Linked DNA regions of Homo sapiens: region 2 is linked to region 1. The links come from fine-mapping of genetic effects on gene expression. A gene starts in region 1. The other region holds a variant in brackets. All regions are shown on one strand. Distances are between the middles of the regions. Region 1 holds the start of ZFR2 (zinc finger RNA binding protein 2). Region 2 overlaps ZFR2 (zinc finger RNA binding protein 2).

Region 1 (12,793 bases):
TCAATGACACCCCACCTAGGCTGGCAGCCTCACCCGCTGCATGGAGGTCTGCACTCTTCCGAGGCATAAAGGTAACCTGCCCACAGCAGAGGCAGAAAGCCCTGATGGGGAAGCAGAGGCCCCAGAGACTTTAGCACAAGGTTGGGACTTCCCATCTCCTGGCTGGAGAAAATGGAGGTCTTGTAAGAGACACTTGTGTTAACTGAGGGGTGGATTCGATGAGTCCCTGTGCTGGGCACTGGGCACAAGATATGAGTAATTCCCATTACTGGCAAACAAAGGCGAGCCCTGCCTGGGTGCAGCGGGCATCTCTCAGGCTCCCCAGGCCTTCAGAGCATTGGAGGAAGAGGATGCCTGAAGGAGTGGATTCTGCATCCGAGGAAGGTTGCAAGGCGATATGGCTAGTGCCCACCAGCTCTTTTGTGCAGGGGTGGGGGTGCAGGGTTAGTGGTGGGCTCCCCTGCGTGGGGCTGCGGCTGTGGCCCCTCTCATCATCACCCGCCTGCGCTCCCTGCCTCTGAGGTATCTGCTTCTTCCCAGCTCACGGCTGGCAGAGGCGTGGCTTCCCTAATTCAGTTAATTTATGCTGTTTTTGTGTGCAGGATTGGGAATTCTCTTAGAATGACCATTCAGTTGAGGCCAGGCATGTAATCCCAGCACTTTGGGAGGCCGCTCACACCTGTAATCTCAGCACTTTGGGAGGCTGAGGCGGGCAGATAACTTGAGGTTGGGGGTTTGAGACCAGCCTGGACAACATGGTGAAACCCCGCCTCTACTAAAAATACAAAAATTGGTCAGACGTGGCGGTGGGCGCCTGTAATTCCAGCTACTCGGGAGACTGAGGCAGGAGAATCGCTTGAACCCGGGAGGTGGAGGTTGCAGTGAGCCCAGATTGAGCCACTGCATTCCAGGTGGGGTGACAGAGTGAGACTCCATCTCAAAAAAAAAAAAAATAAATAATTCCCATTCAGTTGAGAGAAACAGGTGGACAACAGAGTCTGGGCTGATCTAGAGACATCTTTGGAGTGGTGCAGGTTGGGGGACCGTTGGGGAGGTTTCCTGGTGGGGCACAGAGGTGGCGACTGCATGAGTGAGACCCCTGAGGAGTGAGTGGAGTTAGATGAATAAAAAAGAGGGAGGAAGGCATATTCTGGACAGACAGGCCTGCCCAGACTGGCATTTAAAGAGCAACAGCTTCTCCCCAGTCCACCAAAGCCTGGGAGCTGTCCATGGTGCTACAGCCACCACCGAGGAGCCACAGCGTGTGACCTAAGCTTGGTTCCCTGTTTTTTTTTCCCTTTGAGACAGAGGCTTGCTCTGTCACCCAGGCTGGTGCGATCTCGGCTCACTGCAACCTCTACCTCCCAGGTTCAGGCGATTTTTCTGCCTCAGCCTCCCGAGTAGCTGGGATTACAGGCACCCACCACCACGCCAGGCTAATTTTTGTATTTTTAGTAGAGACGGGGTTTCACCATGTTGGCCAGGCTGGTCTCAAACTCCTGACCTCAGGTGATCCGCTTACCTTGGCCTCCCAAAGTGCTGTGATCACAGGTGTGAGCCACTGCAGCTGGCCTCTGTCTGTTTTCATTTCGTTTTATTTTAATTTTAAAATGGAAAAATTTTAATTTAATTTAATTTTTTTGAGACAGGTTCTTGCTCTGTAGCCCAGGCTGGAGTGCGGGGGTGTGATCATGGCTCACTGCAGCCTCAACCTCCTGGGCTCAAGTGATCCTCCTATCTCAGCCTCCCTGGCAGCTGGGACTACAGGTGTATGCCATCACACTTGGTTAATTTGACAATTTTTTGTAGAGATGGGGTCTCACTATTTTTCCCAGGCAAACATACCACACCCAGTGGGTGTGGATATCTTTAGGGGCCATTATTCTGCCGGCCATCCCTGAGGAATTCGTTTGGAAATGCACAAAAGGGCTAGATTTTGTAGGATCTTGAAACTTTTCTGAAGGTGAGCTTGTAGAAAATTTTCTTGTGGGCTGGGTGCAGTGGCTCACACCTGTAATCCCAGCACTTTGGGAGTCTGAGGCGGGTGGATCACTTGAGGCCAGGAGTGCTGGGCTCAGTGCTGGGATTACAGGTGTAATCCCGGCCTGTCACCCTGTATCTTTAACCCCTACACCAGTGGCTGTCACCTGGGGGGGTGGTGATCCTGCCCGCAGCGGACACCGGACGATTTCTGGGGACACTTGTGTTTGTTGCGACTGGGGGATACTCCTGTTATGGAGTGGATGGGGGCCAGGGACGCTGCTCAGCACCCTGCAGTGCCCAGGATGGCTCCGCCCCAGAGAATAATCTGGTCCCAATGTCCACGGTACTGAGCAAGAAAAATTCTGCCCTAAAAGAATGCTTGATACAGGCCAGGCAATGTGGCTCACGCGTATAATCCCAGCACTTTGGGAGGCCAAAGTGGGTGGTCAGGAGGTCAGAAGTTCAAGACCAGCCTGGCCAACATGGTGAAACCCCGTCTGTACTAAAAATACAAAAATTAGCCGGGCGTGGTGGCACGCGCCTGCAATCCCAGCTATTCAGGAGGCTGAGGCAGGAGAATTGCTTGAACCAGGGAGGCGGAGGTTGCAGTGAGCTGAGACTGCGCCACTGCACTCCAGCCTGGGTGAAAGAGCAAGACTCTGTCTCAAAAATAAATAAATAAATCCATAAAATAAAATGACTTCCAAGCTTCATGCTGAAGCACTGTCTAGTCTTCCTAAGTGCAAGAAAGCTCCAAGGAGAGGCCGGGCGCGGTGGCTCACGCCTGTAATCCCAGCACTTTGGGAGGCTGAGGTGGGCGGATCACAAGGTCAGGACATCGAGACCAGCCTGGCTAACACGGCAATACCCCGTCTCTACTAAAAATACAAAAAATTAGCCGGGCGTGGTGGCGGGCGCCTGTGGTCCCAGCTACTCGGGAGGCTGAGGCAGGAGAATGGCGTGAACCCGGGAGGCGGAGCTTGCAGTGAGCCAAGATCGCGCCACTTCAGTCTGGCCTGGGCAACAGAGCAAGACTCCATCTCAAAAAAAAAAAAAAAGAAAGCTCCAAGAAGAAAAGCAGTGTGTTAGAGAACTTCAGATATGAGTAAAAGTGCTATGAGTTCAATGTGAATGAATCAACCATGTCTATTTGTTGGGAATAACGCTCAAAATCCTAAGAAGATTGAATACACAAACAAAGGGATTTTAGCAAAGCAATTTTACTTCTGCGCAGAGAGGTGTTTTTCTTTGTCCAGTCGTCATGAGAGCGCACCTGAACAAAGGGGCATGAGAGCCTTTATTCCTGAGGCAAGTCCTGCCCCTGTGCCCTTTCCCCATTGGCCGGGGTCGGGTCACACAATCTGAACTAATCCCGGTTGGCTAGACATTTGAACTTTCTTTTTTTTCTTTTTTTTTTTTTTTGAGACGGAGTTTCGCTCTTATTGCCCAGGTTGGAGTGCAATGACGCAATCTCAGCTCACTGCAACCTCCACGTCCTGGGTTAAAGTGATTCTCCTGCCTCAGCCTCCTGAGTAGCTGAGATTACAGGCATGCACCACCACTCCTGGCGAATTTTGTATTTTTAGTAGAGATGTTGGTCAGGCGGGTCTCGAACTCCTGACCTCAGTTGATCCGCCCTCCTCATCCTCTCAAAGTGCTGGGATTACAGGCGTGAGCCACTGCACTGGCCGAGGTCGTGTATTGATGGTTGATGCAAACACTGTGACTAGAGGCTCACAGGAACTCAACCTCGTGTTTCTCTTAGGAGCGATGGTCAGTATTAGTGAGCTTGGTATTGACTTTAGAGAACAGAATTAATGAGAATCGACTGTGTCTACTTCTTTTTTTTTTTTTTTTGGGGGACGGAGTCTTGCTGTGTCGCCCAGGCTGGAGTGCAGTGGTGCAATCTCGGCTCACTGCAAGCTCCGCCTCCCGGGTTCATGCCATTCTTCTGCCTCAGCCTCCCGAGTAGCTGGGACTACAGGTGCCACCATGCCTTGCTAATTTTTTTGTATTTTTAGTAGAGACGGGGTTTCACTGTGTTAGCCAGGATGGTCTCCATCTCCTGACCTCATGATCTGCCTGCCTTGGCCTCCCAAAGTGCTGGGATTATAGGTGTGAGCCACCACGCCTGGCCTCTTTTTTCTTTTCTTTTCTTTCTTTCTTTTTTTTTAGACTGGGTCTTGCTGTGTCACCCAGACTGGAATGCAGTGGTACACTTATGGCTCACTGCAGCCTCCACCTCCTGGGCTCAAGCGATCCTCCCACCTCAGCCTCCTAAGTGGCTAGGACTACAGGCACACACAACCACATCCAGCTAATTTTTGTATTTTGTAGAGATGGGGTCTCCCTATGTTGCCCAGACTGGTCTCAAACTCCTGGGCTCAAGCAATCCTCCTGCCTTGGCCTCCGAAGTAGCTGGGGTTACTGGTATGAGCCACTATGCCTGTTTCTACTTCTGAAGGCTGTTTTTTTTTTTTTTGGTTTTTTTTTTGTTTTGAGACAGAGTTTCACTCTTTCACCCAGGCTGGAGTGCAGTGGTGTGATCTCAACTCACTGCAACCTCTGCCCTCCAGGTTCAAGCAGTTCTCCTGCCTCAGCCTCCTGAGTAGCTGGGATTATAGGCAACTACCACCACGCCCAGCTAATTTTTTTGTATTTTTAATAGAGACAGGGTTTCACTATGTTAGCCAGGCTGGTCTTGAACTCCCAACCTCGGCCTCCCAAAGTGCTGGGATTACAGGTGTAAGCCACCATGCCCGGCCTTCTGAAGGCTGTTGTGGGAACTAGATCACATTTTGCATGTAAAGCATTTAGCACAATCCTTGCAGTAAATAATAGAAAAAATGCAACCCAGAGAAAACACTACAACAGATCCTTTGTAAAGAGACACAGCCTTCATTACCTAATTAGAACGGCAGGGACTTGGAGAGAGGCCGTGTGCAATTAATTACCTTGTTGGACTTTAGCCAGGGCATGGCAGGGAGAGCTGCACTGGCCAGACCCACCAGACCATTCCTGGTGGCCACACATGGTCATGGAGTTACAGATGGAAGAGTGCCATCCGCTAAATCACCAAATGTGGCTTCCCTCAGCACCCTGGGCTCTCCATGGAGCCTGTCCAAGAATTAGTAGCCCTGTATCTGCTGAATGCACTTCTTACTTTAATGCTCTCGTAATACTCCATTGTCAAAAAGCCAACTGATTTGAAAGACTTCAGCAAAGCAAAAGTTCATAGATGCCCAAGACCCAAGACTTCCTTTTTTGTTTGTTTTGTTTTGTTTTGAGACTGAGTCTCACTCCGTCACCTGGGCTGGAGTGCAGTGGCGCGATCTCGGCTCACTGCAACATCTGCCTCCCAGGTTCAAGCAATTCTCCTGCCTTGGCCTCCCGAGTAGCTGGGACTACAGTCACCCGCCACCTTGCCTGGCTAATTTTTGTATTTTTTAGTAGAGACAGGGTTTCACCATGTTGACCAGGCTCGTCTTGAACTCGTGACCTCAGGTGATCCGCCCGCCTCAGCCTCCCAAAGTGCTGGGATTACAGGCATGAGCCACTGCGCCAGGCCCCTTTTATGTTTTTTGTTTGTTTGTTTGTTTTGAGACGGGGGTCTGGCTCTGTCACCCAGGCTGGAGTGCAGTGGTGAGATCTTGGCTCACTGTAACCTCTGCCTCCTGGGCTCAAGTGATCCTCCCGCCTCAGCCTCCTGAGTAGCTGGGACCACAGGCACCTGCCACCATGCCTATCTAACAGAAGCCCAAGACTTCTATGATGCTTTTTGGAATCTAGTGTTCAAAGTGGGCGTCTTAGTCTGTTCAGGGTGCTATAACAAAGCCAGGCGCAGTGGCTCACGCCTATAATCCCAGCACTTTGGGAGACCGAGGCGGGTGGATCACCTGAGCTCAGGAGTTTGATACCAGCCTGGCCAACATGGTGAAACCCCGTCTCTACTAAAAATACAAAAATTAGCCGGGTGTGGTGGCGCATGCCAGTAATCCCAGCTACTCGGGAGGCTGAGGTTGGAGGATCGCCAAAGCCTGGGAGGCGGAGGTTGCAGTGAGCTGAAATTGTGCTATTGCACTCCAGCGACAGAGCGAGATTCCTTCTCAAAACAAAACAAAACAAACCAACAAACAAATAAACAAAAAAGCTGCCTAGTGAATGGAGGGAAAGGCTTAGGCAGAAGCCCCGTTACTTTACGTGGGGCCCTTCAGAAGTCGCTGGGCTCAGTAGGTTCCTAGCCGTGTTTGAGAGTCGGCTTTTCTAAGAGATACTCATGCAGCCCAGCCTCTGGGCCCCCCAGCTTCCGGGCCGGCCAGCCTGTGGAGGTTGGTCAGGTGGTCACCCATCTTCTTCTTCTTTTTTTTTTGGAGAGCCTCACTCTATTCCCCAGGCTGGAGTGCAGTAGCGTGATCTCGGCTCACTGCATCCCCTGCCTCTTGGGTTCAAGCGATTCTCATGCCTCAGCCTCTTGAGTAGCTCACCACGCCCGGCTAATTTTTGTATTTTTAGAAGAACTGGAGTTTCGCCATGTTGGCCAGGCTGGTCTCAAACTCCTGACCTCAGGTGATCTGCCTGCCTCGGTCTCCCAAAGTGCAGGGATTACAGGTGTGAGCCACCGCGTGCAGCCCACTTCCTCATCTCGGAAGTGACTCTCCAGGAAGTCACAGAGATGGGGGTCTGTAGGGGCGGAACCCAGTGCATGAAGATCCAAAAGACTCTGGTTGAGATTTTTCCCCGGGGCCATGGCGGCTTCCATGGCTTCCAGGGTTTTACCCCACTCATCTTGACCTGGCTTCAGGATGTCCTGGAAGACAGCAGGGCCACCACGCTGGTTTTGCATCTTCAGGAGACGCTCAACACCCTTGCGCTTCTCCTTGGCCAATTCATGGAAGAAGTAAGCCCCGCATTCCGGAGCCACATCTTGGTGATCGAAATAGAAGCGCAGACGATGGCTCACGCCTGTAATCCCAGCACTTTGGGAGGCCGAGGCAGGCGGATCATGAGGTCGGGAGATCGAGACCATCCTGGCTAACACGGTGAAACCCCGTCTCTACTAAAAATACAAAAAAATTAGCCAGGCGTGGTGGTGGGCGCCTGTAGTCCCAGCTACTCGGGAGGCTGAGGCGGGAGAATGGCGTGAACCTAGGAGGCGGAGCTTGCAGTGAGCAGAGATCGCACCACTGCACTCCAGCCTGGGCGACAGAGCCAGACTCCGTCTCAAAAAAAAAACAAGCAAAAAAAAAAAAAAAAAAACCCGCAGAGGGAGGAGGTGTAGGAGGCCCGCAGGTGCAAACTGACCAGGCGGTTGACGGCTGCCTCCACCGCGGTGGAATAATTCTGACGAATCTGGGAGCTCATGGTTGGTCGGCAAGAAGGAGCTAACCAAAAAAACGGCGTTGGTTGGTCCGAGAAGCAGGAGATGGCTGAGCCGATGCTCCTGGAGGTTGCAAGAAGAGAGGAAATCAGCGGGTGGTCGGAGGCTGGAAGTGAGTTCCCGGATCTGTTCCATCCAAACACTGTGGAAGCAAGAGACGGATCCGCGGGACCGCCAAACACGCTGCTGCTTGTCAGGTTTCAATACTGTCAAGTGACTCTCCCTCCCCCTCCTTCCAGGCTGCAGTCTTGGGAAGGAAGTCACTATGCACAACCCACACTCAAGAGGTGTAGAGTTACTCTCTATCTCCTTAAGCGCAGTGTAGCTACACAAATTAGGAATTCTTCTGCATAAGAGATTTGTCTGTTTGCCTCCATTTATTTGTTTATTCATTCAATTCTTTCTCTCTCTCTCTCTCTCTCTCTTCTTTCCTTCCCTTCCCTCCCTCCCTGCTCCTCTCCCTCTCCTCTTTTATTATTTATTTATTTATTTTTTTATTTTTTATTTTTTTATTTTTTTGAGACGGTGTATTGCTCTGTTGCCCAGGCTGGAGTACAGTGGTGTGATCTCGGCTCGCTGCATCCTCCACCTCCTGGGTTAGGTAATTCTCCTGCCTCAGCCTCCCGAGTAGCTGGGATTACAGGTGTGCCCCACCACGCCTGGCTAATTTTTTTTTTTGTATTTTTAGTAGAGACAGGGTTTTGCCATGTTGGCTAGGCTGCTCTTGAACTCCTGACCTTGGGTGAGCTGCCCACCTCGCCTTCCCAAAGTGCTGGGATTACAGGCGTGAGCCACCACGCCCAGCCCTTTCTTTCTTTTCTCTTTTTTGAGACAGGGTCTCACTCTGGAGTGCAGTGGTACAGTCACAGATCACTGCAGCCTTGACAGCCCAGGCTCAAGTGATCCTCCCACCTTAGCCTCCTGAGTAGCTGGGACCACAGGCATGTACCACCATGACCAGCTAATTAAAAAAAAATTGTAGAAACAGGGTCTTGCTATGTTGCCCAGGCTAGTCTCAAAGTCCTAGGGCTCAAGATCCTCCTGCCTCCGCCTCTCAAAATGTTGGGATTACAGACGTGAGCCACTGTGCCCGGCCTATCATTTATTTATATCACGTTGTGAACACAGGAGGCAGAGACCATGGGGGCCTTCTGAAGAGTCATTCTGAGGCTAGATGCAGTGGCTCACGTCTGTAATCCCAGCACTTTTGGAGGCCAAGGCAAGATTATTTGAGGCCAGGAGTTCAACATCAGCCTGGGCAACATAGCAAGACACTGTCTCTACAAAAAATTTAAAAATTAGCTGGCTGTGGTGGTGGTGGGGCTTGAGCAGAGACCTCCACATCTGAGTGGTTAAAGAGAAGGTGGGGCTCGGAGACAGAGGTAGGGCTTGTGCAGAGACCATATCTGAGCAGGTAAAGGGAAGGCGGGGCTCCGAGAAAGAGGCGGGGCTTGTGGCATGGGTGGGGCTTGAGCAGAGACCTCCACACCTGAATGGTTAAAGGGAAGGTACGGTTCCAAAAAAAGGCGGGGCTTGTGGCATGGGTGGGGGTTGAGCAGAGATCACATCTGAGTGGGTAAAGGGAAGGCAGGGCTCTGAGTAAGAGGCGGGGCTTGTAGCATGGGCGGGACTTGATCAGATACCACCACATCTGAGTGGTTAAAGGGAATGTGGGGCTCCGAGAAAGAGGCAGGGCTTCTAGCATGGGCGGGGCTTGAGCAGAGACCTCCACATTTGAGTGGTTAAGAGGAGGGCGGGGCTCTGCGTAGGAGGCGGGGCCTCGGGGCAGGTGTGGTCGCGGGGCGGTGTCTCCCTAGCCTAAGAGAAGGAAGCGAGAAGGTGAGGGCTTCGCGCAGGGGGCGGAGCTTGGGGCGCGTGGCCAGGCGCGAGCGGCACGCGGCTCGGGGGCGGGGCGGGTGACGTCGCGGGTCCGCCAGGCTCGGGGAAGACGCCAAGATGGCGACGAGTCAGTATTTCGACTTCGCGCAGGGCGGCGGCCCGCAGTACAGGTAACTGCCCCGCCGCGCCAGCCCCCGCCAGTCCCGGCCCCTGCAGCCTGGCCGGGACCCCGCCTACCCCTTCTCCCGCCGCGTGCGCCCGGCCCGGCCCCAGTCCCAGCCCCAACCTGGAACCCCGGCCTGAGGGAAGCCGCGGCGCCGGGAGAAGCAGGCGGGGCGGCCTCAGGTTAGGCACCGGGCGGGATGCGGGCTCCGGGGCTCCGGCTGAGACGTCTCTGCAGCCAACGGTGTCTGTCGGCGGGAGCGGGAGGGGGCTCCTGAAGTGGGAGGGGGCCTGGGTTTGGGCCTGGGCCTGTGCGGGGTCGGGGGGGTCAGCCCCTGATGGGGGCGCCACGAGGAGGGCAGCGAGAGGGGACAGACCCGGGCGGGGGGTGGGTGGTCTGACCGAGGAGGGGAGGGGACGGAACTGACCCAATGCAGGGAGGAGACCTGGGAGGTGCCTGGCCGGGGAGTGGGTGGGGATGGGCAGAGGGGAGCTGACCCCTGATTGCTGGTAGGGGAAGAGAAGACACAGACCTAGGAGGGTGTCTGGCTGGGCAGGAGGAGGGGAAGGGCAGAGGGGCATTGACCCCCGATTGCGGGGGGAGGAGAAGACACAGACCTGGGAGGGTGCCTGGCCGGGCAGGGGGATGGACAGAGGGTAGCTGACCCCCGATTACTTGTAGGGGAGGAGAAAACAGAGATCAGCGAGGGTTCCTGGCTGGGCAGGAGGAAGCCACAGTCGAGGGGTGAGGAATTGGCCCCTGATGGGGGTAAGAGAGAAGACAGAAACCTGGGAGGGTGTCTGGCTGGACAGGGGGAGAGCTAGAGCGGAGCTGACCCCGATTGCTGGTAGGGGGAGAGAATTCAGACCTGGGAGGGTGTCTGGCTGGGCAGGAGGAGGGGAAGGGCAGAGGGGCGTTAATCCCCGATTGCTGGAGGAGGAGAAGGCAGAGACCTGGGAAGTTTCCCGACTGGGCAGGGGGCAGCAACATTCGAGTGTGGAGGGCACTGACCCCTGATGGTGGGGGTAGGAGAGAAGGCAGAGACCTGGGAGGGTACCTAGCAGGCAGGGGCAGAGACCTGGGGTGGGGTGTGGAGTAGGGGTGGGAACCTGACCCCTGATGTGGGGTGGAGGAGAGAAGACAGAGACCTGGGAGGTTACCCCAGGGAGGGGCGGAAACCGAGGTTGGTGGGGAACTGAGGCCTGACTGGGGAAGGGGGACAGAGACTTGGCGGGAAGCCAGTATTATGTGGGAGGAGGTCCTGAGGTCAAATAAGAGGGTGGGCACCTGGGTTTCCAGGGAACTGGGACCCTGCTGGGACAGTGAGGAGGGAGAAAGGGCCCTGAGTGTTGTGATATTTAAGATCCTTTTCTAGGTCTTAAATATGTGGTCGTTTGGGAGGGGAGGGAGAGAAAGGATCCTGGAGGAGAGATGGCAGGGGATGGGGACACACTGGGAACTGGCCAGGGGCAGAAGGGCTCAGAGGGTAGGGACACACACGGGGTAAGTTTGTGCCCCAAGTGTACAAACACACACTCTACACTGTTCTCCCAGGCCTGCTCCTCGGAGCATCTCTGCTATCTTCAGCCCGTCCATCTGCCCCCAAGACTGGAGTCCCAGTCCGGGAGCCAGGGCTGGCATCTCTGAGGGGACCAGATTCCCCCCCCAACAGTTGATCATTTCCGCGTGTCACCCTTGTGTTAGTTTCCAGCTGGTAGCTTGCTATAACCTTGTTTCTCACAGTCCCTGCTGAGCCCCCACAGATACAAACCACCCCTTGGGCACCTCATAGAGGGGCCTCTGCTGAGCTCAGGGGGGTCTTTGCCCCCCGCGGTGTTCCTACTGCATTTCAGCACATGGAAGAGAGATCCAGGCTGGTGTTTCAGCTTCCCGCGGTGGAGCGGCAGTGCCGACCCTTCCACCAGTGCTGTGATATTGCTGTGCCCTTTCTAATGGAATCACAAAGAGAAACCACCCAGGGCTTGGAAACCAGGGCTGTGGGAATGAGGAGTGCATCTGTTTCCTGCACTCGGAGTGGTTTCTCTGGTGGAGTATTTGACTAGTAATGGATTTCCTATTAGGGAAAGAATCTATGACCTGCTGATTTCCCAGAATGGAGCATTTAATTTTTATTTGATCTTTTCTTTTGCTTCCTTCATCCTCAGTGGTGTTTTGATTGCCAGGGCTCAGTTAAAGCGGCTGGACTTGGCTAGCGATCCAGGCTAGTACAAACTTCTGGACACACTCCACCCCTCTGCCTGCTAGCTCTTCCTTCTTTTCTCTTTCTCTTCTTTCTTTCTCCATTGTATTCTTCCATCAGACGTGGAAAATCACTTGAATATTATGCTTGCTATTAAAATTACCTTCCAGAGGAGAAATTGAATGTTTATGTTGTTCAAATAGGTGATTGCTAAGCTTCAGTAGAGGCTTCTGTCATTGATTTGAATTAACGTGCTTATACATTTTAGCACAGCTACCTTCTGTGTTCTGATGGCTTAGGTGATACAGTATACACGCAACCCATTTTAGCACAGCTACCTTCTGTGTTCTGATGGCTTAGGTGATACAGTATACACGCAACCCGGTGTTGAGTTGTTGAGTTAGTCCGTCCTTAGAATTGCCGCAGAGAGAATGTGTTCTTCCTTAAGAAAATAGTAAGCTATTAACTAAAAATAACACAGGAATCATAGCAAAATACATTTCATTCTCACAAAACCTTGAAACAAGATGATAGGCATTATTTGAATGACTTTAGGTTAACTAGACATTCTTTCTTGTGGGAAATGACTTTTGTTTGGAAACTTTGGCTGCTTTTAAAGTACGTATGTTTTGGCCAGGCGCGGTGACTCAGCCTGTAAACCCAGCACTTTGGGAGGCCGAGGCAAGCGGATCGCTTGAGGTCAGGAGTTCGAGACCAGCCTGGCCAACATGGTGAAACCCTGTCTCTCCTAAAAATACAAAAATTAGCCGGGCGTGGTGTCGCGCGCCTGTAATCCCAGTTACTCGGGAGGCTGAGGCAGGAGAATCTCTTGAACGCGGGAGGTGGAGGTTGCTGTGAGCTGAGATCATCACGTTACTGCACTCCAGCCTGGGCGACAGGGTGAGACTGTCTCAAACAAACAAAAAAGTACCTATGGTTTATATAACCTGCCATGAGAAAACTGATGAGATACCAGATTTTGTGTACCAATTTTATGGCAGCATTTGGACAGCAGTATTTACAACACCTGTTTCAAGAATTGCCAAAACAAAGGCAGCAATTCATTTTTTAGGAGTTTTGGGTAGGTTTTCTTAGCTTATAAAATTGATAACCAGGCCAGGCATGGTGGCTCATGCCTGTCGCTCCAGCACTTTCGAAGGCCAAGACAGGAGGATCACTTGAGCCCAGGAGTTTGACATTAGCCTGGGCAAAATGATGAGACCTTTCCCCC
Region 2 (8,000 bases), 43 kb after region 1:
CCCCATCTCTACTAAAAATAGAAAAATTAGCCGGGCAGGGTGGCGCATGCTTGTAATCCCAGCTATTCGGGAGGCTGAGGCAGGAGAATCACTTGAACCTGGAAGGTGGAGGTTGCAGTGAGCCGAGATCATGCCACTGCATTCCAACCTGGTGACAAAGCAAGACTCCGACTCAAAAAAAAAAAAATAATAATAATGATAATAAAAACATCCTAGATTTGCAGGTGAGCCTCAGAGCTGGCTGCTCAGATGGGCCCTGGGATCTCTGCCAGGTGTGGGCCTATGAATGAAGGAAAGTGAGGACTGAAAATGCAGCTAACATTTTTTCCAAGGAAGCTTTCCCGGGGTGGCAGGAGGTGAGCTCTGTGGGTGATGGAGCTGGAGATGCAGAGGAGCTTGTCTAGGGCACCCACAGCCCTCCTCCCCCATGGCAGGAGAGAGAAGCCGGGCTCTGGAAAGGAGAGGTGGGCACAAGGTAACCTGCGAGTCGCTGCCAGCACCTGGCCCAAGGCTCTGGCCTCTGGTCCTGGCTTAAGCATCTAGCGTGTTCCAGCCAGTTGAGTCCAGGGCCCATCTGCAGGTGAGGGACAGTGGGGTGGGGGTTGGCTCTGCAGAGGGCCTGTCCCTGTCCCCTAGGGACCCAAGAAGCCTGCGGGCAGCCCAGCCCCCATGGCAGTCACAGCCACGCTCAGCCCCCACAGCAGGCGCCCATAGTGGAGTCCGGACAGCCAGCGAGCACCTTGTCCTCGGGATACACCTACCCCACGGCGACAGGCGTCCAGCCCGAGTCGTCAGCTTCCATCGTGACCTCCTACCCCCCGCCCTCCTACAACCCCACCTGCACCGCCTACACGGGTAAGACCAGCGTTCCTTGCCCAGGTGGTCTGCCCGTCGGTCCCCACTTCAACTCAGTGGAATCAGCATCTCCCCCCGACTCATTGTTTTCTCTGCTGCTCAGCACCAAGCTACCCGAACTATGACGCGTCGGTGTACTCCGCTGCCAGCCCTTTCTATCCTCCAGCGCAGCCCCCGCCTCCCCCGGGACCCCCGCAGCAGCTGCCCCCGCCGCCCGCGCCTGCAGGCTCAGGAAGCAGCCCCAGGGCCGACTCGAAGCCACCGCTTCCCAGCAAGCTGCCGAGACCCAAGGCGGGGCCCAGGCAGCTCCAGCTTCACTACTGCGACATCTGCAAGATCAGCTGCGCTGGCCCCCAGGTCAGTCGCCCTCCTGCCATGGGCAGGCCCCAGGGACCTCTCTGTCCCCAACGTCTGAACCCGAATGTGGGCGCCGGTGGGGTGGTCAGGGTCGCTGCCTGCTGAAAGAAGGTCTGGTGTTAACTTGCATGTTGTATGCATGGCCTGTGTGTGCAAGCGCTTGTGTGTGTGTGCAAGTGTGAGTGTGTATGTGTGCGTGTGTTTATGCATGTGTATATGTGTGCATATGTGTGTGCAAACGTGAGTGTGCATGTATGTGTGCTTGCACGTATGTGTGCGCATGTGTGCCTGCATGTGCCTGTGTGTGCAAGCGTGTGTGTATGTGTGTGCATGTGTGTGCGTGTGTGTATGTGTGCGCATGTATGCCTGCATGTGTATGTGTGTGCATGCGCCCGTGTGTGTGTGTGCATGCGTGCTTGTGCTTGGCAGTGCTTGTTTGGGACATACGTGAAAGAATCTTTACCAAACACACGAGCTTGAGATTTTAAAGCTTGCAAATCACCCAGCTGAGATCGTGGGCTCAATTCCTGGAAAGATAATTAGACCCTAGAGCTCTGTCTTTGCAAAACACACACCCTGATCTTCTTTTGTTTTTAATACTCTGAAAGGAAGCTCTGGACCGCGGAGAGACACGGAGTCTGCAATCGCAGACTCTGGAGAGGTGTGAGAAGGCTCAGGACACCGTTATCAGGACCCCTGACCCAGCTGGGGATGGGGGGCCGGTCCCTGCTCAGGACCCCTCCCGCCCCAGATCACCCTTTCCCTGTCTCAGACTCTTTCCTCCAGCAGCTCTCCACTGTGTCTCATGCTGGGAGAGACCCCGGCCTTCTTTGCAGAGTGCTCGCATAGAAGTTTGAGTTTCTTTTGGAGACAAAGTCTCGCTCTGTTGCTCAGGCTAGGGTGCAGTGGTACAATCACAGCTCGCTACAGCCTCCACCTCCTGGGTTCAAGTGATCCTCCCCTCAGCCTTCCAAGTAGCTGAGACAGGTACGAACCACCATGCCCAGCTAATTTTTTAAATTTTCAATAGAGATGGGGTCTCACTATGTCGCCCAGGTCCAGTCTCGAACTCCTGGGCCCAAGCGATCCTCCTACCTCAGCCTCCTGAGTAGCTGGGATTACAGGTGCACACCACCATGCCTGGCTATTTAAAAAAAAATTTTTTTGTAGATACAGGGTCTCACTATGTTGCCCAGGCTGGTCTCGAACTCCTAAGCTCAAGGAATTCTTCTGCCTCAGCCTCCCATAGTGCCAGGATGACAAGCTGAGTCCCTGCGCCAGGCCCGTGTGGGTTATTTAATCCTTATATCTGCCTTGTGGCTACCATCTCTGTGTGGCAGATAAAATCCCAGAGGCTCAGAAAGGGTCAGTACTTTGAGGAACTCAGAGTCAGTTTTAGTGACCCAGGCAGAAATCAAACCAAGATGTGTTGAAGCCCACGTGGCTAATTACTGCAGTATACGCCAAAAGTGCACAAAGACAGCCTACTGGCTGGGTGCAGTGCCTCATGCCTGTAATCCCAGCACCTTGGGAGGCCGAAGCCGGTAGATCGCTTGAGCCCAGGAGTTCGAGACCAGCCTGGGCAACATGGGTGAAACCCTGTCTCTAAAAAAAATTTAAAAATTAGCTGGGCATGGTGGTACGCACCTATAGTCCTGGCCACTTTGAAGGCTGAGGTGGGAGGATCGTTTGAGCCCAGGAGTCCAAGGCTGCAGTGAGCTATGATCACGCTACTGCACCCCAGCCTGGGCGACAGGGCGAGACCCTTTGTCCACAAAAAAACAAAACCCCCCAAAAACCAACAACAACAACAACAACAAAACACACACACACACACACACACACACAAACCTACCTATAGTCCCCCATAATCCCTCCACCCTGAAATGATTTAGCGGTAGCATCTTGGTGTGTATCCTTCCAGAGTCTTCTCTATTCCACAGGCAGTCTCTCTTTCTAAGTTAGTATGTGTGCACAGGGATGCGTATTTATTCTATTGCTTAGGTAATATATTTATGAGGTTCAAGACTGCTAAATTCCAGGCTGGGCGTGGTAGCTCACACCTGTAATCCCAGCACTTTGGGAGGCTGAGGTGGGAGGATCGCCTGAGGTCAGGAGTTCAACACCAGCCTGGCCAACATGGTGAAACCCCGTCTCTACTAAAAATACAAAAATTAGCCAGGCGTGGTGGCAGACGCCTGTAGTCCCAGCTACTTGGGAGGCTGAGGCAGGAGAATGGCGTGAACCTGGGAGGCGGCGGCTGCAGTGAGCTGAGATCGCGCCACTGCACTCCAGCCTGGGCAACAGAGCAAGACTCCGTCTTAAAAAAAAAAAAAAAAAGATTCCTAAGTTCCAGAGAGCATGCATACAGTAAAATGTATGCCTCTCCCACGTCCTATTTTTCTTCCCTAAAACCAGACAATGTCTCTGAGTTCTTGTGTGCCAAGCCGGTGGCCTGCAGGTGACGGGGCAGTGCCCACTGTGCCCCAGTATTTTCAGGGGCATTTTTCAGTCTGCAGAATGTTTATTCTTGGCATTGTCAGGGCGTGTTGGTTTCGTGGCCCTCCTGCCACGTCTTGTCTGTGGCCGGCTTCATTTGAGGATTTCAAGCAGCACACCCAGGATTCTGCCTAAGGGCTTGGCTGTCGCTTCCCCAGACGCAATCAGATATTTTGGGCCCAGTAGTACCGGATGCGTAGGCCTGTGACTCACGGTGGCTTCCCCCGGGTGGAGCCCCTGTGTCTATTAGCAGTTTCCTAAGATGGAAGTGTACGTGACTATCCTTCGGGCAGCAGGTGCCCTTGCTTGGTTTCTGACGTTGAATTCTGAAGTCAGAATTTTCTGTATACAGCAGCCCCCAAAAGGAA[T/C]GTGTGATGCATGGAGCATGCTTTCCAAAGAAACTCCTTGAATTCCAGAAGAAGGAAGAAACCTTATGTCTAGCAGTCTGAGCCTGTGGGTTTGTTACGTGGGCTTCATAAAGGGACACTTGAATTAGCTACGCGTGGTGGTGTGCACCTGTAGTCCCAGCTACTTGGGAGGCTGAGGCGGGAGAATCGCTTGAACCCAGGAGGTGGAGGTTGCAGTGAGCTGAGATCACGCCACTGCACTCCAGCCTGGGTGACAGAGTGAGACCCTGTCTCGAAAAAAAAAAAAAAAATTTGAGACGTCTATAGTAAGAAGATAGGCTGGGCGCGGTGGTGCGCTCCTGTCATCCCAGCACTTTGGGAGGCCAAAGCAGGTAGATACTTGAGGTCAGGAGTTCGAGACCAGCTTGGCCAACAGAGTGAAACCCCGTCTCTACTAAAAATACAAAAATTAGCCGGGTGTGGTGGCACCCGCCTGTAGTCCCAGGTACTTAGGAGGCTGAGGCGGGAGAATCACTTGAACCCAGGAGGCAGAGGTTGCAGTGAGCTGAGATCGTGCCACTGCACTCCAGCCTGGGCAACAGAGCGAGACTCCATCTCAAAAAATAAAAATAAGAAAAATAAAGGGACACTGGAACCTCCATGGCACCAGGGAATGGAGGGTTGGGGACAGCGGGCCTCTGTTACCACCGAGTTCCCTCGCGCTAAGCCGGGGGCCTGCAGGGGAGGGGACAGTGGCCAGTGTGCAAACCCCCGCCCAGGCTGCCTCTCACCCCTTGCCGCAGACCTACCGGGAACATCTGGGAGGGCAGAAGCACAGAAAGAAGGAGGCGGCCCAGAAGACAGGCGTGCAGCCCAACGGGAGCCCGCGCGGGGTGCAGGCGCAGCTGCATTGCGACCTGTGCGCCGTGTCCTGCACCGGGGCGGACGCCTACGCGGCCCACATCCGGGGATCCAAGCACCAGAAGGTACGGCCCCGCCCGGCCCAGGCTCTGCCACCCTGGGGAGAAGGCCCCCAGGTCAGCACTTGGGACCCACAGAGGTACCTGGGGAGATCAGAGGGAGCTGGGAGAAGCCTCCCCAAGTGGAGCGCGCCCCAAGGGCCAGCCGCCCAGGCCCATGCGTCCTCATCTTCAAGGATCCAAACTCCTTTCCAGTTATTTTATTTTAGTTTTCATTTTATTATTTTTTTTAATGGGGACAAAGTCTCGTCCTGTTCCCCAGGCTGGGATGCAGGGGCACAATCTCGGCTCACTGCAACCTCTGCCTCCTGGGTTCAAGCAATTCTCATGCCTCAGCCTCCTGAGTAGCTGGGATCACAGGCATCCGCCACCGCACCCGGCTAATTTTTGTGTTTTCAGTAGAGACGGGGTTTCACCATGTTGGCCAGGCTGGTCTCGAACTCCTGACCTCAAGTGATCTGCCCGCCTCAGCCTCCCAAAGTGCCGGGATTACAGGCGTGAGCCACCGTGCGGGGACTCCTTTCCACTTATAAAAAGGGTTCCTGCTCATTGCACAAAAACATGAAGTGGCCGAGACACTCACACCCGGACTTCCAAGAAAGCTTGGCATTCGGGCGTGGTGACAGACAGGGCTTGCCCTGTGATGAGACCCAATGCTGTGTTCCCTTTGAGGTCTTGCTCTTCACACTCCCTGCTGTAGTATCACTGTTCTCCTGAGGCCTTAGTAAGGTCTGGGTCAGGCCGGGCGTGGTGCCTCACGCCTGTAATCCCGGCACTTTGGGAGGCCGAGGCGAGTGGATCGCATGAGGTTGGGAGCCTGAGACCAGCCTGGCCAACATGGTGAAACCCCGTCTCTACTGAAAAATACAAAAATTAGCCGGGCGTGGTGGGTGCGTGCCTGTAATCTCAGCTACTCAGGAGGCTAAGGCAGGAGAATTGCTTGAACCCGGTAGGTGGAGGTTGCAGTGAGCTGAGATCTCGCCACCGCACTCCAGCCTGGGCGACAGAGCAAGGCTCTGTCGCCAAAAGAAAAAAAAAAGAGGCCTGGGTTTCGTCATGTTCGGCGGGGAGGGGATGGAGTCCCCACCTGAGAGCAGGGAGGGGACAGCTGGCTTGTGCTGTAGCCCGGGCTGTCAGGCTGAGCCACCCTGAGAGGCCTGGCTGAGGACCTGGCTTCTCTCCCCCAGCTGCCTGGAGGCTCATCCAGGGCCTCATTCCCTGGCTCGGCTCAGGACAGCTTGCTGAGGGCCCGTGTGAACCCACAGGGGAAAGAGGAATGAGCAGGGAGGCATGGAGGAGGGAAGGAGCGGGGCAGAGAAACGGGGGAAGGAGACTTGGCCTGGGGACCGGAGAGCTAGGGGCCGGTGGGGCAGAGCTGCAGGTGTCACCCCCACAGGCTGGGGCTCAGTCTGGGGGTCAGGCAGGCCCTGCTGCCCGTTGTGGGGTTGGGGGGTACAGGGCAGGTCTTGTACCAGGGTACAGCGTGTCAGAGACAGAGCTGGGAAGTGTGTCTGAGATGGTCCCCAGCACACACACAGTGGCCCTGTGCACACGGAACCTTTGCCAGAAACACCTTGTACCTAGAGGTGCTGAGAATGGGGCACGGCCAGAATACGGACGTGACCATGTGCACACGTGCGTGCAGAACGTGGGTGTCCGTCCAGGGACACGTGCACACCCACCATCCATCCACACATGCTGAGTCCCGGGCAGTCAGGGAGCACTAGGCTGGGGCTTGGGAGGCTGAGAAACGGCCCCACCTGGCAGCCCACGTGGTGGAGGAGGAGGAAGAGCGTCCGTGTGAGCCGGTGAGCCACGTGCTCACACACTAGAGGAGTGTCACCGTGCTAGAGAAGTCACAAGCACGTGTGCAAGGCAGGAGGCCACCTGGGAAGGGCCTTCTGGAGTGGGTGTTATCCAGAGAGCAGGAGGAGAGAAGAGAGGGGGGTCCCTGGGACCGGCCAGCCCACACTCGCGCTGCACGCCCGTGGAGGCCCTTCCTGCCTCTTGAAAAAGGCCATCAGGCTGGGAGCGGCCCTCACGCGGGAGCCCGGCTCTGTCTGTTGCAGGTCTTCAAGCTGCACGCCAAACTGGGGAAGCCCATTCCCACCCTCGAGCCTGCACTGGCCACAGAGAGCCCCCCCGGGGCAGAGGCCAAGCCCACGTCCCCCACTGGCCCCAGCGTGTGTGCCTCGAGCAGGCCAGCGCTGGCCAAGAGACCCGTGGCCTCGAAGGCCTTATGCGAGGGTACGTGTGTCTGTATGCGTGTTCGTGTACCCACCAGAGCCCTGGCCGCCTAGTGAAAGTTTCGTGAGAAAATCTACCATCCAGTCGATTTTCGTCATGTCTTCCCGGGGGGTGGTGAGGGGCTGGCTGGTGCCGTCTCTCCCTTATTCCTGCAGAGCAAGATGGCCTCCCACTGGCCCACACCGCCCTGAACCTTGGAGACCCTTTGAGACCATTTCCAGAGAGTGCTGGCAGAACCAATAAAATGGTAATGCCATTTCTTCCTGTAGAGTTTTTTTGTTTTGTTTTGGTTTGAGATGGAGCCTCGCTCTGTCCTCCAGGCTGGAGTGCAGTGGTGCGATCTCAGCTCACTGCAACCTCTGCCTCCTGGGTTCAAGCGATTCTCCTGCCTCAGCCTCCTGAGTAGCTGGGACTATAGGCATGCACCACCACGCCCGGCTAATTTTTGTATTTTTCGTAGAGACAGGGTTTCACCATGTTGGCCAGGCTGGTCTCGAACTCCTGACCTCAAGTGATCCACCAGCCTCGGCATTCCAAAGTGCTGGGATCACAGGCGTAAGCCACTGCGCCCGGCCTCTTCTGGTAGAATCTGGCCTGGTGCCGGGTGCTGGGGTTCTCTGGAAGCCCTCACCCTGCACCTACAGGGTTCCCTGGGCTGCCACCTCCACTGTGCTCCCCTGCATGCCCTGGTGCTCACGGTGAACAAATTGGGCTC

The links.
Region 2: its variant is fine-mapped to the expression of ZFR2 in testis (GTEx, PIP above 0.99).

What each region holds. Positions count from the first base shown.
Region 1 is chr19:3,865,541-3,878,333 of GRCh38, reverse strand. ZFR2 (zinc finger RNA binding protein 2) reads left to right here and starts at 9,296. Exons shown (of 19, transcript NM_015174.2): 1 at 9,296-9,369. The coding sequence starts at 9,317. It also overlaps the pseudogene FTLP5. RefSeq lists silencers at 1,126-1,326, 1,089-1,383 and an enhancer at 6,710-7,209.
Region 2 is chr19:3,824,515-3,832,514 of GRCh38, reverse strand. ZFR2 (zinc finger RNA binding protein 2) reads left to right here. Exons shown (of 19, transcript NM_015174.2): 4 at 637-855; 5 at 959-1,212; 6 at 4,862-5,044; 7 at 7,108-7,285. Among named protein-coding and RNA genes, the nearest start is that of ZFR2, 41 kb to the left of the region's middle. RefSeq lists an enhancer at 673-1,262. The variant T/C (reference allele first, on the strand shown) is at 4,080.